3 linked regions of the Homo sapiens genome follow. The protein of the gene in region 1 purifies or fractionates together with the protein of each later gene. This does not show direct contact. Each region holds a gene or a part of one and is shown on either strand. Other genes may lie near its edges.

Region 1 (3,500 bases):
TCATTTTTGATTTTTTAAAAAAGTCATTGTCCAAAGTAATATTACTATGAAGACTATTAACTTTTGCTTTAGTGTTTATGGTAAATGATTTTTAAATCATTACTATTATAATAGAATATAAGATATCCATTAAGCAACTTTTGATGGGTGACACATGAAAAAAAAATCTGAGTTCAATATAAATATTCTATTCTGGGTTTTGACTTGTTTGTTGAATCTGGTAGAAGAGTTTCCTTGGAGGTAGGGACCATGGTTTGGTTTGTTTTTTTCTGCTTAGCTTTTATTTTCAGCATTAGTTGTTTCCTGTGGCTGACCTCAGCTTATATGTCACTTCAGAGACGTTTAGATGGAGGTCTGTCTCTTAAATTGTCCTCTCCTCGGTAACTTACACTTTGTCTACATGTTATATTCACCCAATTTCCCAGACAGAAGCCTGTCTGATCTGTAATTGTGTGTTACCTTCCTAACATTTTTCTCTCCATCCAGAATGTGAACTGCCTTAGTGGAGAAACCCAGCCTGCCTTAATCAACACTGAATCCCTGGCACCTAGGGTAGTACCTGGAACATGTGGTGCATAAACAGAATAAATTGTTAAATAAATGAACAAACAAATACATACCACATGAATAACAAACCCTCGAAAGTGTGTCCTAATTACAGTAGTTATTATGGAAAAGTCACCGGCTAAGCTAAGCTAAGCAGAAGCCGCACAGGGCTGCTGTTTAATTCGGATAGACCTTTAACTCCGAGGCTCAGCTTCCTCCCAAACAAACTGCCTTGCATGTGGTGGGAGATGGTAAGTATTAGATGACTGGGTGAAATAATTAACAACAGCTACTTTACAAGACTTTGGGAAACAAACGTCCCACTACAGAGTTGGAAATATCCTCCAGAAATGTCAATGAAGCTGAATTTGTAGCGTAAAGAGAGTGCTGAGGCAATCATCAAGAATCCCAGTGCACTTCACATTATGCTAAGGGGATCAAGCCAGGCACAGAAAGACAAATATCACATGTCCTCAAGCATCATATTTGGGAGGTTAAAAAAAAAAACCTGAACTTACAGAGATAGAGAGTAGAACCTCTAGAGGTGACCAGAGGCTGGGAAGGGTTGTGGGGAGGGGGATATACAGGGGTTGGTTAATGCATACGAAATACGCTTAGAAGAAAAAGGATCATGTTCAGTAGCACAAGAAGGTGACTACAGTTAACAATAATTTATTATATATTTCAAAATAACTAAAAGAGTGAAATTGGAATGTTCCTAACACAAACAAATGAGAAATACTTGAGGTGATGAATATCCCAATTACCCTAATTTGATCATTACACATTGTATGCTTGTATCAAAATAGCACTGGTACCCCCTAAATATGTACATCTATTATGAATTCATAAAAACTAAGCATTTTTTAAAAAAGAAATTCCTGTCCAAGCATGCCATTTTTATTAAATGTTCTGTTTCAGGAAGAAGGGGGCATTTTCAGGTTGAAGTATCCATACAACTGCCTCAGTTTAACAAGCAGATTTTGGTTTCTTTATATATTAATATCAGAGGGCTGTGGCTTCTGCTGGCTCCTGTTCCAGCATCTCATGGTTGTCATAATTATAGAGTTAGTTCTAATAGCTAAACTAAAGCTTTTCTTGTGTGTATTCATTTTGTTAAGAATAATTGTTTCTGCTTATAGCGATTATAATAATTCTTAGCTACTATAAAAAAGTAAGAGCAGACTATGAATCCTCACATAATACACACACATATACTACAGTATGGAAAATATTAGAGTCAACATTTTACGTTCACAAAGTGAAAGCTTTGCCTCAGAAAAGTTTCTTGCACTTTATTTCTATTTGCTGTAGGCATGAAGAAACAAAATCCTATGTGTGATTAATCATATTTTGAAATGCAAATATGATAAAGTTGGGCATTTCTTAAAATTTACCTAGTAGTATAGCTTGACACCTGCTATGGCTATGCTAGAAATTCATTTTGTAGTTTCAGAGGGAAAAGATCAGCTTCATTAAAAAACAATGAATAAAGTCATTATACATTTGTTCAAATCCACAGGACACATAACCCGGAGAGTGAGCCCTCCTGTAAACTCCAGGCTCTGAGTGATAACGACGTGTCAGTGTGGGTTCAGCAGCTGTAATAAATGGACCACTCTGTAGGGGAGGATGTGCCTGTGTGGGGTAAATGGAGGTAAATGGAAGTGCCTCTCTGTGCTTTCTGGTCAGTTTTGCTGTGAACCTAAAACTGTAAACTGAAACCTAACTAGATTAAGTCTAAAAACAAACAAACCATGTATCATGCAAGACAAGCTATGATTTTAGTGCCTTGCCCTTTCACTATGACCTGGAAAATCCTCACTATATACACTCAGTTATCTGCTCTCACAGGTATTATGAACCCCCTAGTAAACTGGAGCATTTATATACCTGCTGGAGCATTAAACAGCATGAGTAGGCCCAGAGTGACTATTCTGCTCACCTCCCCATCATTAATTTCTATGAGGAACAAAGATGCTTTCTATAGCTTTATATTTTGCTAGTAAAGCAAAACTCCTAGAACAGTACCTCTCACCTTGGCTGCAGGTCAGAGTCACCTGGAGAGAGCTCAAAAATCTTGACACCCAGGCTGTACCCCAGGTCAATTACACCAGACCCTTAAGGGGTGGGATGCAGGCAGCAGTGTTTTCTAAAGTACCCAGGTGATTCCAATGTGCAGCCCAGAGTGAGAACTACTGTCCTAGAAATACAGGAAAAACATCAACAGGGGGCCGGGCGCAGTGGCTCACGCCTGTAATCCCAGCACTTTGGGAGGCCGAGGCGGGCAGATCACGAGGTCAAGAGATTGAGACCACCCTGGCCAACACGGTGAAACCCTGTCTCTACTAAAAATACAAAAATTAGCTGGGCATGGTGGTGTGTGCCAGTAGTCCCAGCTACTCGAGAGGCTGAGGTTGAACCCGGGAGGCAGAGGTTGCAGTGAGCCGATATCGCGCCACTGCACTCTAGCCTGGCAACAGAGCAAGACTCTCTCTCAAAAAAAAAAAAAAAAAAAAATCAGTTGGCTGGTTTGCATGGGGTAAAACCTGATATGTCCAAAATCAAGTGGTTCTGCTCATCTGTAACTACCATCCGTTAACTTGATTTTGAATGGCCTACAGCCAAAGCTGTTAAAATAGTGATTTGGAGGTTATCCTTTAGGAATAAAAGAGGAAAGAACCAGCATATGTCACCAATAATTTATATCCCTTGTTAAAGAGAAAAAAAGGAGTGAGAAGGTGTGTCCTGGACTTGCCAGGTTGTACTTTAAAATTCCACATGCCTGTGGTTTCTTACCTCATCCTCACCCCTCCACTTTCTACTAAACATTGCCAGAATGGGAGACAGGTCGGGCATCTCTCTTCTGGCAATGTCATTATTGCATTCTGTGTTTAGAGGTGGAAAGGGACACAAAATTGTTCTACTTCTCATCTTCCATGGATTTAGGCACT
Region 2 (3,935 bases), on another chromosome or scaffold:
ACTCTATCCCCCAACCCCCAGCACATCATGATAGCATCAATACACACCTACTTGTGATCAAGTCCTGTTTATTTCAGAAGCTTGAACAGTAGAACTAGGAAGGAGTGATGAAAACAAGGCACCAGTCCCCTTGACAGGGCCAAATCCGGCACAAGCTCTGTCTGTGCGATCAAGGCTGACCCAGCAGCCTCAATCCGCCTTTTCCTGTGAGGAGAGGGTTTGAGGACAACCTGCGCACAGGTGACTGTTCCATAGGGTGAGGTTGGGGTAAGTTGGCTCTGGGTTCCTCTGGATCAGCTGCAAAAGGCCAGAGGGCCCCCAGTACCCTTGGCCAAGAGCATTCCATGCTGACTCTGTCTGTGCTCAGGCAAAGCCACATTCTGGAGAGGAAGCCGTAGTGCCTGGTGGGCACCAGGAAGGCCTCAGGTGTTCAAGAACAACTTGCAATGAGGCTCCATGGCCAGCAAGCACCTGCTTCCCCAGCCCAGTCATCTCTGCAGAGCCTTCCAGGAGGGGGCAGGGGGCATCCCAGGCAGCCAGACTTCTCAGGACCCCTCTGTTGGGTGACATAAGCCACAGGCCTCTATACATACTGCTTCTTAGAAGCAGAGCTGCTGGGACGACTTGGGGGTTTTTGGCCATTCTGAGGGGGTGGGTCCAGGAAGAGAGGGGGCCTGGAAGACGCCAGCCTCTCCTCTGTGGTCAGGTTGGCCCAGTTCTGCTCACTGGATGAGAGCCCATTGTAGGTGGGGCATGGTGGGGATGAGGGCCCCTGGCCCACGGGGAGGTAGAAGAAGACCTGGTCCGTGTAAGGGTCTGAGGAGGTGCCCTGGGTCGGGGGTGCGTCTTGGCCTTGCCGTGCCCTCATCCCCCGGCTGAGGCAGCGACACAGCAGGTGCACCAACTCCAGCAGGTTAAGCACCAGGGAGATGAGTCCAACCACCAACATGAAGATGATGAAGATGGTCTTCTCCGTGGGGCGAGAGACAAAGCAGTCCACGAGGTAGGGGCAGGGTGCTCGCTGGCACACAAACACGGGCTCCATGGTCCAGCCGTACAGGCGCCACTGGCCATAGAGGAAGCCTGCCTCTAGCACACTCTTGCAGAGCACACTGGCGACATAGGTGCCCATCAGTGCTCCGCGGATGCGCAGGCGACCATCTTCTGCCACCGAGATCTTGGCCATCTGACGCTCTACGGCCGCCAGCGCCCGCTCCACCTGTGGGTCCTTGGCCGGCAGTGCCCGCAGCTCCCCCTCCTTCTGCCGCAGCCGCTCTTCTCGCCGAGACAGGTAAATGACATGGCCCAGGTAGACCAGGGTGGGTGTGCTGACGAAGAGGAACTGCAGCACCCAGTAGCGGATGTGGGAGATGGGGAAGGCCTGGTCATAGCAGACGTTGGTGCAGCCTGGCTGGGCCGTGTTACACTCGAAATCTGATTGCTCGTCACCCCACACTGACTCGCCGGCCAGGCCCAGGATGAGGATGCGGAAGATGAAGAGCACCGTCAGCCAGATCTTACCCACCACGGTCGAGTGCTCCTGGACCTGGTCCAGCAACTTCTCCAGGAAGCCCCAGTCACCCATGGCTCCCGGGCCTCCGTCTGCAAGGAGACAGAGCACGTCAGTGTGTCAGCATGGCATCCTTCTCGTTCGCCCAGCAACAAGCCTGCAGGGAGGTCTGCCACGCCCGTTCTACCTACAAAGAAACCCAGGCTCAGGAAGGGGAAGGACTGGCCTGGAGGCTCCCACTCAGCAGTGCAGGCAGGACCCAACCCAGATTTTTGGATGATGGCTGCCCACCTCTTTGTATGGTCTCATTCTGCTTTGGCTAAGGTCCCTGCCTAATCAGACATCTATGTCCCTCTTGTCCCCGAGCCACTGCCCCAGGATGGACACAGGCCAAGGAAATCTGGGTGGAGTTGAGGCTCCTTTGCCTATGGGAACAGAATTTGAGGAACTTATCCAAAGTTGTGCAGCTGGGCTAAGCCCTTCCTCCCTTTTGCCCAAGGCTGGCTACCCCCAGACAGTGGGAGCTAGTGATGATGGTAGAGGTGTTATCTTCTGCTTCTTAGGGGGCTCAAAGCCTCAGGTCCCTGCTCCCCGCCTCATATCTTACCCAGCTGGCTTCACTCTAATCTTTGAGCCTGCAGGGGCTGGGTAGTGGAAGGGGTTTTAGGAGCTGAAGGCAGCATCATCCTTTAGCTCCACCGGTCAGCAATAATGACCACCTGCCACTTGAGGAGGGACATTTGGTCCTGTCTTCTTCCTCCACCTCCACTCCCACCCCCTTCCACCTCCAAAGCTGATGCTGGCAAATTCTAGACTCTTGAAAGGAATTGTCATTGCAGGGTGAGGCACAGGCCACAAAGTTCCCAAGGGGGAGGTGCCTCTTCCCAAGTGCAAAGCTGTTTAGAGCCAGGCTCTGGAAGCGGCCCTGGGTTCAAATCTTGCCTTTTAGTAACTGCGGCCCCTTGGATAAGGAACAACCTCTGGGCCCCTCAGTCTCCTCCACGATAGAGTGGAAACAATAGTATTCCTCCCGCCTCGGGTTGTTACAAGGATTCCATGGAAAGAGGGTGGGAGCCTGGCCAAGGCCACCTGGGTGAGCGCGGCTCTGTCGCGGCGGGCGTTCCGCAGCAACCCCCGTCCCGGCATCGGAGGACCCAAGACTCCTCCCGGCCTCCCGCGAGCAGGTGGCGCCCCTGGTCCCTTCCTAGCCCCCGACTCACCGCCTGCCTGCCGGGCGGCCCAGGTGGAGGTGGGGACGATGGCCGGAGTGACGCCCGCGGGAGCCCTGCTGGACCGCACGAGCGGCGGGGGCGCCTTAAATAGCGCAGAGGGGCGGGGTGGGGGCAGGAAACGCGACGGGGAGGGCGGCGGGCGCTGGAGAGAGGGCGGGGGCGGGGACTGGGAGGTGCAGACTCCCTAAACCCACTCCGGGGAGGTGGGCCTGTGTGATTTGCGGTGGGGAGGGGCAAGAGGGGCTGACCTACCCTTCCTCTCCTCTGTTCTCTCTCCACCAGGTATTCCAGACAGTAAACTCTCCTGTCGTTTCTTTGGCCAGGGAAGGAGAGTTCTCCCAGGCCAGGATCTCTCAGGGTGGCTGGATTTGAAGGGGTTGCAGTAAGGGCTGTGGATCTGGGCAACTGGCCTGCGGGGCTGTGAGGGGTGGGCGGATGGGGATGGAGTGTGGGGACCACTCATTTGCTAGGTGGCTGGCCCTAGTGTGCCAGGATGAGGCGATCAAGGCTAATTACGGCGCGGGAAGCTCCAATGGGGGACAGGGGTTGTAATCCACACCTCCAGCATACATGGTGGAGCAGGCGTCTCTATCCACGCCCAGCCCACGTTCTTCCAGAATTCTCAAACATCCCCATGTCTGGGCAGGCTACACAATCAGAGGCCATTAAGCAATTCCCATGGACTCCTTGAGACTGGGGGTGGGGGAACCACCTGACCTTTAGCTTGGACCCCGTTCTTATGCCTCTAAATGGTGGCTGGGTGGTGTGGGGGACATCCATAGGAATGAAAGGGCTATGCGGAGCCTGCCTTCATGCATTCAGGCATCACAGGTGGATGAGCATCAGTGAGCATCTGCTGTGCTGCAGACGCTGCTTGGGGACCTGGGGATACCCTGAGGAACCAGCCAAACTTGGTCTCTGGCCTCCTCCCTCACTGGCTGGTGCAGGGATTGAGCATATCAGCCCTTGGATAACGGTAAGATAATAAATGTGGAAAGTTCTCCTGAGAGGTACTGGGTGATTCCCAGGGGACTTGGTTAGGAACATTTCCTGGAGGAGAGGAAATGCTTTTCCCCCTCCATTAGCCAAGTGGAAGGGAAGAGCATTCTAGGTAGAGGGGCGGCATGAGTGTGGCTCGAGGGCCTGGAGCTGTGGGGTTCTGAGACTGTGGCCACTGCCCTCGGAGTGCTGAG
Region 3 (3,500 bases), on another chromosome or scaffold:
CTCCTGGGGATAGGGATTAGACCCTTCCCCCTGCCCACCTGTACATCCCCGTGCCCCTAGTTCTCTGAGTCAGGTGAGGGTCTTTACAAAGGTAACCCCCACTCTTGTCTCCTGGGGCTTTCACTCACCCTCTCTTTTCATTCTCTTACCAACCCTGAAATGTAAGGGGCCCTGCTCCAGCTGGGAACCCAAAGCTGTTTGAGGTAAAGGGGTGGAGCTAGGAATCTGAGGCTCCTCCCACAGCATGGTGCCTTCCCTCCTGGCCCTGGCCACTGCTGATGCCCCTGTACCTTAAACTACCTACATTCTCTGTAGCTTCAGGGACTCCCCCAAGGGGGTGGGGAGCAGAGGGGAGTGACCACTCTAGGATTGAAGGGACAGACTGGCCTATCATTCATGGGTGGTGGAGAGGGAGTTGGCCCCAGCCACCAGCCAGAGCTGCCCTTGCATGACCCCTCCCTCCTGCCTAGACTTTTTTCTGCCCAAAGTCTGTGGCTGGGGTTTACCTACTCCTTCCAGCGGGCATTCCAAAAGCCCGACAGAGCCTGTTCCCCAGGCATCTCTGGTGTTCCTCTTACTGGAAACAGTAGGGAGACTGAGTGGTGGCCGAGAGCACAGCAGAGGAGGCCAGGGGGCCTCTAGGCCCCACCCCTCCTCGGCCCTACTGTGCCATGCGTACACTAGGTCCTTGGCAGGCAGGGTCCCAGGGTGCAGTGGCCCTAGGCAGCCCCCATTTCAAGATACCACTCAGAGCCAGGCCATTTCTGGCTCCTATCTGGGACCCTAGGAGGCATGTCTGCTCCTGCACCCCTGACCCTGGCTTGGCCCCTGTCCTACCCACCTAAACCACAGCAGCCCTCAGCTCTCAGCTGCAGCGCTCCCTTAAGACAGACACTGAATTTTATCCACAGAATCCTCACTCATATCCTGGTAGCCTCATTAACAGCCATGCTAAACAAGTGAATGACCATATGAAGGAACCGTGAATGAATGGATGGATGAATGGATGGATGCTGCCGACCCAGATACACCCTGCCAGGGTGGGCTCCATGCAGCCCGCAGCATCAGGGGCAGAAGGCCTGGGGGCCTGAGCATGCCGGTTGCCTGGTTACAGGATACACATTCACAGCCCCAGGGAGCCACGCGCTCAAGAGCCCTCCTTCCCACTTCGCACAGGGCTTTGATCAGTGCTTCAGAAACACTCTGCCACAGCTCTGCCGCGGGAGAAAGGCCCTGGCAGGTAGGAGAGCCGGCTCCTGATCTCTTTCAGCCCCTCCCCCCTCACCTCTGTGGGCTGAGATGAGAATGGCTGCTGGGGAGGGACCACAGCCTCTCACACCAGGGGAAGTGAGGCTCCTGGCTTCAGAGGGAAGAGAATTCCCTGCATGGATAGGGCCTGGCTATGCCCCACCTCCCCATCCAGGCTGTGCCCACCTGTCAGCCACTCAGTCTCCCTCTGGAACAGGTTTGATACTGAGCCCAAGTGGCTGCCCTTGTGGCTGGTGCCTTCCTGGCACACTCTGCCCTGGGCAAGGCCTCAGCCCAGCTGGCCCCTGGGGACCTGCTAAGTCTGGGGCCATAGGAATGAGAAGTGATGTTAGAAGCGAAGCCTCTGCTTCCTTGGCCTCCCTACCTCAGCCTCAGCTTCTCTCTTTGTTCTGTGCTCCAAGTCAGTGGGCTGATCCCCCTTTCAGAGGAAGAGCAAAGTAGCCGATGGCTGCCAGGGCCCAGTCTCAACTAGGTTGAGCCCCAGGGCAGGGAGGCACAGGAGGGGAAGTGGGGCCAGAACCACCTTCTCCAAGACCAGCCCTGCTCTGTCTGGTACCCAGGTAGGGAAGCTGGGTGGCAGATCCCTCTCCCACTCCGCATGCCCCCCAACCCCACTCAGGCTGAGCCAGGGATCCTTGAGCAGCCTGAGCCGACCCGCCCCCTTCAAGGCAATGGGAGAGAGAAGGGAGAAGGGGACAGGAGTCCTGGGTCAAACACAAGACTTGGGTGACCTCAGTCACCAGGGCTGTCCTTCCTACAGGGGAAGGGGCAACTGCCAGACCTGTCTTTGGCAGGGGGGCCTGGCAGAGGAATAGAGGCAGCTCTCAGACAGCCTCGCCGAGATCATGAAGTTGATCCCCTCTGCTCCTGTCTTCTAGGGGGTCTTCACCAGTTGGGGGTCTACAGAGGGTAGGACAGGATGCATGCCCAGTAAGACCTCTTCTCTGTAGCCCCTCCAAGCCCCCAGTTCAGGGCCAAGCACCAAGCAAGCACAGAGTCACCCACCAACAACTTGGAGGGAAGCAGCCTGTCCCAGAGCACTGGACCATTCTGCCCAAAGTTCTCATTTGGAAACCACATAAATATCAGCTTCAGTGCCTCACACCACCCCGTCTCGCCCAGCCAACCACTCCCCTTTTCAAACACTTCTTTAACATTAAACTCGACAACCAAAAATTTACTAAATATCTGCACACGGAAAGCAGTCAGAAGCAAGGGGAGAGGATGACCTAAAAGAAAAGAGGCCAGGAGAGGTGAGGGGAGGCCGGGGGTGGGGGGCAAACGGAAGGGAGAGGAGGCCAGGGGAAGTGAGACGCTGCTTCTCAGCTCAGACACAGCCCGGCCTTGCCAGCCGCCCCTGCTGCTGCTGTGGTGACAACTTCAACAATAGCAGGGGAGCCGCCTGCCCATCGGTGGCCACCATTGCTGCCACTACCACCACCACTGGCCCAGCTGTTGGGATGCCAGCCAGCCCTCTGGGGCGGGGGCTGCAGCAGGCAGAACCCAGCCCAGGCACATGCCAGGCAGCACGCTGGCGAGGAGCCCCGAGACCACAGATGCACGATGCCCGGCAGCCGGAGGGCAGCCGCGTGCCCCACGCGCCATGCCTCCAAGCCTGGGACCGAGTCCTCGGGCCCCCATCCCTTGGCAGGGCCCCTCCGCAGCTCAGGGTCACTCACCCCGAGCTTCCTGCTCTTCATCTTCACGTAGCCTTGCTTGACGATGTCACTGAAATTGGTCGCCATGGTTTTCCCACCTTTTAGGGGCGCGGGGCCTGGCAGAGGCGAGGGGAAGGATGCCCAGGTGCCTGGGTCTCCGGCTCCTCCAATCACCTGTTCCAGACACTCTGTCGGGGCTGCCGCGAGGGGCTGCTCCTCACCTCACCCGCCTCAGCATTGTTCTAGCAGCTCCTTCGCCCCGCGCCTGCTGGAAATAAAAATGACAGGGAGATTAGAGACAGTGACATCTTTCTCTTCCTCTCGCTGTCTCGCTCTCTTTTTTCCTTCCTCTTCCCACACTCCTCCTCTCTCCCTCTTCCCTCCCTCCTTCCTCCCGCCCTTCTTCCTTCCCTTCCCTCCCCACCCCAGGACGACAGAACCATTCAGGAAAACCGAGGTGGAGGCGGCAGTGAGGAAAATGGTCCAGCCCAGTCCCCTCCCTCACGGCTGGGGCTGGCAGTTAACCCCTTCCTGGGAGGACTGGCTCTGGCTCCTACTGTGGAGGTGGGGACC

Evidence for each region. The genes of interacting proteins can lie anywhere in the genome.
Region 2: the proteins of OPRK1 (region 1) and GJA4 purify together in Homo sapiens (affinity purification with western blotting; one study listed by BioGRID and IntAct). This does not show direct contact.
Region 3: the proteins of OPRK1 (region 1) and DOK4 purify together in Homo sapiens (affinity purification with western blotting, with the first as the bait; one study listed by BioGRID). This does not show direct contact.

Annotation. Positions count from the first base shown.
Region 1 is NC_000008.11:53,231,138-53,234,637, forward strand, and holds part of OPRK1 (kappa-type opioid receptor), read right to left. Parts: intron 1-3,500. UniProt on the Homo sapiens protein: G-protein coupled opioid receptor that functions as a receptor for endogenous alpha-neoendorphins and dynorphins, but has low affinity for beta-endorphins.
Region 2 is NC_000001.11:34,791,864-34,795,798, reverse strand, and holds GJA4 (gap junction alpha-4 protein), read right to left. Parts: upstream 2,801-3,935; 5' UTR 2,731-2,800; exon of another isoform or gene 2,453-2,730; intron 1,698-2,452; exon of another isoform or gene 1,603-1,697; 5' UTR 1,586-1,602; coding exon 584-1,585; 3' UTR 52-583; downstream 1-51. UniProt on the Homo sapiens protein: One gap junction consists of a cluster of closely packed pairs of transmembrane channels, the connexons, through which materials of low MW diffuse from one cell to a neighboring cell.
Region 3 is NC_000016.10:57,476,494-57,479,993, forward strand, and holds part of DOK4 (docking protein 4), read right to left. Parts: intron 3,265-3,500; exon of another isoform or gene 3,196-3,264; 5' UTR 3,015-3,195; coding exon 2,949-3,014; intron 1-2,948. UniProt on the Homo sapiens protein: DOK proteins are enzymatically inert adaptor or scaffolding proteins. They provide a docking platform for the assembly of multimolecular signaling complexes.